Regions from separate parts of the Homo sapiens genome. Here region 2 is linked to region 1. Evidence: fine-mapped expression QTL. Tissue or cell type: whole blood. Region 1 holds a variant in brackets; the other region holds the start of a gene. All regions are shown on one strand. Distances are from middle to middle.

What was found. PIP is the estimated chance that this variant, and not a neighbour inherited with it, causes the effect.
Region 2: it holds the start of CORIN, and the variant in region 1 is fine-mapped to the expression of CORIN in whole blood (TOPMed, PIP above 0.99).

Annotation. Positions count from the first base shown.
Region 1 is chr4:47,953,944-47,956,630 of GRCh38, forward strand. All of the region lies in intron 3 of CNGA1 (cyclic nucleotide gated channel subunit alpha 1), which reads right to left. The region is part of intron 1 of LOC101927157 (a long non-coding RNA gene); the gene reads left to right. Among named protein-coding and RNA genes, the nearest start is that of NFXL1, 41 kb to the left of the region's middle. The variant A/T (reference allele first, on the strand shown) is at 1,138.
Region 2 is chr4:47,836,674-47,839,360 of GRCh38, forward strand. It overlaps CORIN (corin, serine peptidase), which reads right to left and starts at 1,394. Exons shown (of 22, transcript NM_006587.4): 1 at 1,214-1,394. The coding sequence starts at 1,276. All of the region lies in intron 1 of LOC101927179 (a long non-coding RNA gene), which reads left to right.

The DNA of each region.
Region 1 (2,687 bases):
CTCCTGTTTTCGCCTCAATGTTGCATTTTCTGAGACCACTCTAGCTGTCACGTCCCCCCCATCCTGTGCCCATATAAACCTGAGACCTTAGCGGGCACACACACAAGCGGCTGAATGTCGAGAGGAACAGAGTGGCAGAGAATAGCAGAGAGCGGCAGAGAGTGGTGGAGAGCAGCAGAGCAGCACGGCAGAGAAGGAGGGAAGAGGCGTCTGAACATCAAGAGGAGTTGCGTCCAGAACGGCGGAACTCCAGGGGAAGATTATCCCCACACCCCTCCACCTTCCCGGAATTCCAGCTCCCCATCCCGCTGAAAGTCACCTCCACTGTTCAACAAAGTCTCAGCATTCATTACCTTTCAAACAGTTCATATGACCTGATTTGTCCAGTACTCTGGAAAAGAATGGAGGTGGGGAGGTTAACACTCAGCTGTCCCCGGACAGCAAGGCTAAAGGAGCTCACTATAACACATGCCCACTTGGGCTCTGGCACCTTTCCGTCTGCGTGCTCCCCCTTCCCTCAGGGGTTTGAGCAGCGGCGGGGGAGGGGACCAAACAGGTGAGCCACACCCCTGCCGCACGTCCTGCAAGGGGAATCAGAAAACCTTCCCATTTTATAACCACATGAAAGATGACATCGCCTGCATCTTCCATGGCTTCCAATACTCGGTGCCAGAATGGTTCTGACTGCAGAGTGGTGAATGTTCCTCCTCCTAATTCCCTACTGGCCTTGATCACCTAGGCGTGGAGTTTGATACCTGCCCTTAAAAGAGCCAGCCACTTAAAGAACATACTTCTGTTCAAAACGTGCACATGTGAGGCACCCCTTCAGGGATTCCCTGGAAAACCTTACGAGCCTTTTTGAAGGGGGGGTAAAGCTGAAGGCCCTCTGGGTGTAGGTGGAGCTGAAATTCTGTGCCGTTGATGACTATGCAAATTTATTTGGATCCAAAGACTCCATGGGCCCAGGGACCTTTAGGCTATATTCAAACAGGGCTGCTATGTAAAGGTACTCACCGATATAGCTAGACCAGTTGTTTATAACCATCCTTTATAACTATCCTTTTCTGATAGTTAAGTGCTCACGACTGTAATAGTTGTTAAATATTTTAGTATCACTTTTTCCTAATTTTGTTACTT[A/T]ACAGTTTTGTGTACATGCCTCAGTGACTCAATTAGGATATGAATTCTTGGAATCCAATAAAATTTCTTTTTCTCTGTCTCTTTTTTCTTTTCTTTTTTTTTTTTTTTTTTTTTTTTTTTGAGACAGAGTCTCACTCTATCACCTAGGCTGGAGTGCAGTGGTGCGATATCAGCTCACTGCAACCTCTGCCTCCTGGTTTTGAGCTGTTCTCCTGTCTCAGCCTCCCAAGTAGCTGGGATTACAGGCGCCCACCACCACGCCTGGCTAATTTTTGTATTTTTACTAGAGACAGGGTTTCGCCATGTTGGTCAGGCTGGTCTCCAACTCCTGACCTCAGGTGATCCGCCCCCTTCAGCCTCTCAAAGTGCTGGGATTACAGGCGTGAGCCACCGCGCCTGGCCCATATAACAATTTTTTTAATGATTGGTCTATGCTATGAGAACAGATTATTACTAAGGTACAAAGTGGTGTTCCAGCTGCAGTTCCCTGCCTGAGCCATGCTGTTTCACACCTCTGTGCCTTTGCATATGCTCTCCTTGGGCTTCAAAAGTCCACTTCTCTTGAGTCCAAATAGGTGTTATCCATTGCTCAAGTCCAGGCCACTGACTCCTCGCCCTTGACCTAGGTAATTGCTTCCTTCTCTTCTCTGCCACTGCATTTTGTACATATTTCAATTGTTTTCCACTTGCTAAATTGTGACACACACCATCTTCACAAGGCTACAACCTCCTCTGGAAGGGAGACTTTTGTAACCACAGCAGTGCTTGCACATGATAGGTACTCAAGAAATGCTTATGGCATGAACAAATATAGTTTTGTGTTTTAAAAAGCTATACTCATGAGACATTTCATTAGAAGTTATGAAAACTCACTAAATTTACAACGACTTTGAAATGGTTCTTAGGGCGACAGATATGGTGAATTGGCCCACATAACCCATTCTTCTCTCCTTCTAGTGTGCTTTCATGATCTGCAAAAACTGAAAGAGCTAAAAATCTACATTACTGAGTCTGCTTTGCAGCTCAGATTCTGGATGGCATTTGCGGCACTTAGGTTTAGTCAATTAAATGCATTTGTATGAGATTTGGAAGGTAGAAGTGAGGTGAAGACAATGGATCTTCCATTTCTGCTATGGCTGCCAGCAAGAATGGGCAGGGACACGTTGGATATTCTGAGGCGGCTATCCCCGTCTGGTTACTAGCTTTCCTGGTGCCAAAGGAAGGGCATCCAGTTTATGCTGGAATGCATCTAGCAGGAGTAGGGTGACTGTTGTGCCAGGTGCAGTGGAAGTGGCTCCCATCTAAGGAAGTGCGTTCTTGAATAAACAGTTCCAGTGGGAGCTTCCTCACTGCCCACTTTCAGGTTACAAGAGAGGAAGAAACTTCCCTGCTGGCTAATTCTGGCATATTGTTCTGGGGTTATGCCTATGGTTCAGCCTAGAGCCCCAGCCCTTCTAATGACTCTTTGCATCTATTTCCAAGAATTAAAGCTCTTTCTATTGAAAAAGGCCAGTGTACAATTCGGTTTCTGCAAATGAACAAATTCTTTT
Region 2 (2,687 bases), 120 kb before region 1:
CCCAGCCCCGAAGCTTCCCTGCTGAATTCAAAGTCAGAGCTCCCAGGGCTCGGTCCCAGGAACCGGGAGCCGTGCAAAAAGCGCGTACACTGCCATCCACTGGCCCCGAGCAGGTAGTAGCAGGAGTGAGGCGCCTGCCACGGGAGCTCAGGAACTGGGTCCCAGTAAGATCCGACAAGACACCACCTCCCTTCCGCCCGCACAGCCTGCCCTCTCTGCCTGCAGCTAGCGTCACCGGTCGGTCCCCGATTCGGAGCAGCTGGGACCCTCGCGGTAGCAAGCGGATTCCGGGGCCCTAATGACACCGAAGGAGAGGGGCAGCCGCAAATTAGACCTTCTTCCTGGGGGCTCAGGCCAGTAGGGACTGTCCGTGGTGCCCTTCCCTTTCTTTCTCCTCCTGAACGAGAGCCAACGCTGCCCCTTCCCAGGACTGGATCTGAGCCAACCAAATCCTACAGCGCAGAGCCTGCGCCCCCGGCGGCCAGCCCTCCTGTGCCTAGGCAGGTTCACGCCGGAGAAAGTTTGCACGCAGGGACCTACAAGTTCCCAGCACTCTGCAAGAGGGCCAGTTCTGGGATGCCAGCACTTAGGACGGGCGAGTGATCCCCAGGCACCAACTGGGGGCCGGGGAACCAAGCGCGAGCCCGGGCTGTGGAGGGACCGACACCCAGGCGCTCGCAGCTGGGGAAGGGGGCTTACGTCTGGGGCAGGCAAGACTGCTGCACAGTCCCTCCAGCCACCCGGCGCCCGAGACGCCGGCGCAGACAGGAAGCTGTAGATCCCCGAGGGGCTGGCTCCGACAGCTCCACCTGCAGCCTCCCCTGCCGCCAGTGTGCAGCCAAGTCCACTAGATGCTTGGAGGGCACCGTGCGGAGGAGGGACTCTGCAGGAAAGGTGGCATCACCCCCGGCATGGAGACCGGGGTCTCCGGATCGAGCCGACTCGAACACTGAAGGAAACCCTGCCCATGACCCTGGGAGGGTCTCGGACGCCGGGCGACCGGGGTGGTGGTCGGGACCAGGGCCGTGCGCCTGGGAACTGGGTGCAGGGCGCTGAGCGCGGAACTGTCAGAGCGGGAGCTCACCGGCGGCTGGGGAAGGAGGTGGCATCGGGCGGAGGAGAGGACGGGGGCGGGAGGGGCTGACCCTGAATTCACCGGGACTAAGAGGCCATCACACCTGGCTGCGGTAGGACAGCGAATCATCGATCTTACCGGCTTTGGGGACCCGGCTCTGCGGCAGCGCTCTTCCGGAGCGAGGGCAGGAGACTGTTTCATGGATAAAAAGTCTCGCTTATTCTTCTGTCCACTTTTATCTTGGTCGCTTTTCTCTCCTCTACGTGTCCCCCGGGGAGGCACTACGGATGATTTTCTCCAAGCTCAAGAGAGACAAACTGAACTTTAAGCGCCAGGGGCCCCATATTTTGTCTGCTCTACAGATCCCACCCGCGGGCCACACCCTCCCTTCACTCCCGTCTCTGGGTCCCACCCATAATAACCCGTAATGACAGATCCTCCGTGTCCCCACCTCTTTGCATTCAAAGAAGTTATTCTTCAGGGGCATATGGAAAGTCAGTTTCTGCTGGTCTCCCTCAAAAACTTACACTCCACGAGGGCAGCAGAAAAGGACAGGACGATTAAGTTTAAGTTGTGGAAGACTGGTTGGGAGCAAAAGAGTTACTTTTCTCCAAATTTGCCATATCACATCGAAAGCATTTTCTTTTAACCAGAGTGTAGCCAATCAAAATTAACTGCAGGCGCTGGCAATTAAAGAACAAGTTTATCTCAAAAAAGGTTTAACGTTTGGAGGCCATTATTTGCATCAGGCATATGGAAACTTGCGTTCTGTTAGGTATGCTGAAGAAACTGCTTTTGCCAGACTGCCTGAGTCTTTGCTGAGGCTGCAGGGACAAGGGAGAACCCCACCCTGACTGCTTCCAAAACCCTAGTTCCTGATTTCCTGCAGAGGGCACCTACAGGCTGAACCTAAAAGGCGAACAAATTCCTGCCTGTCATTCAAAAGCAGCTACCTTTTCTAAGGCAGCGTCAAGGAGGGCACTGGAGGTACTCAACACAGTAATGATTACTTTACCAAGTCCAAGGCAATTGTCAAATGTGGCAAAGAAAAACACTTCATTGGGTTTTTCTTAGAAATGATTTTTCATCCAATTTCAATCAAGATCTTAATGGAAATTTTGAAAATTACTCATGAGGTTATTTAATAAATCCATCCCCATTATTTAAAGAAAGCCATGTAAAGACAACAAAATATGGGCCAAGCACTTGTTCTTGAACATTATTGCTGAGAAAAAAATATGCATTTGTAAAATGGGGGGGGCAGTATTTTGTTTCTGAAGTGAGATCAAATGTAGAAAATATTGCATATGTATAGTAAAATGACTGAAACACTGATTCCATGTTATTCTAACATCCGATTTGTAAACCAGTATCTGACAAATTTATCATAATTCACAATAATTCAGTTCATATTATGTGGCAGGTGTCATACTAAGCACTTTACATGTATTCTTTCAGTTCCACCAACTACTCTGAGGAAGAAGCTATTATTTTTATTTTAGAGATAAGAAAGCAGATTCAGGGAGCTGAAGTGAAGTAACCAGCCTACGCAAGCTAGCAAGAAGCTGAGCTGGGATTCCCCCGAGGCAGTGACTTCTGGATTGTGTTCTTA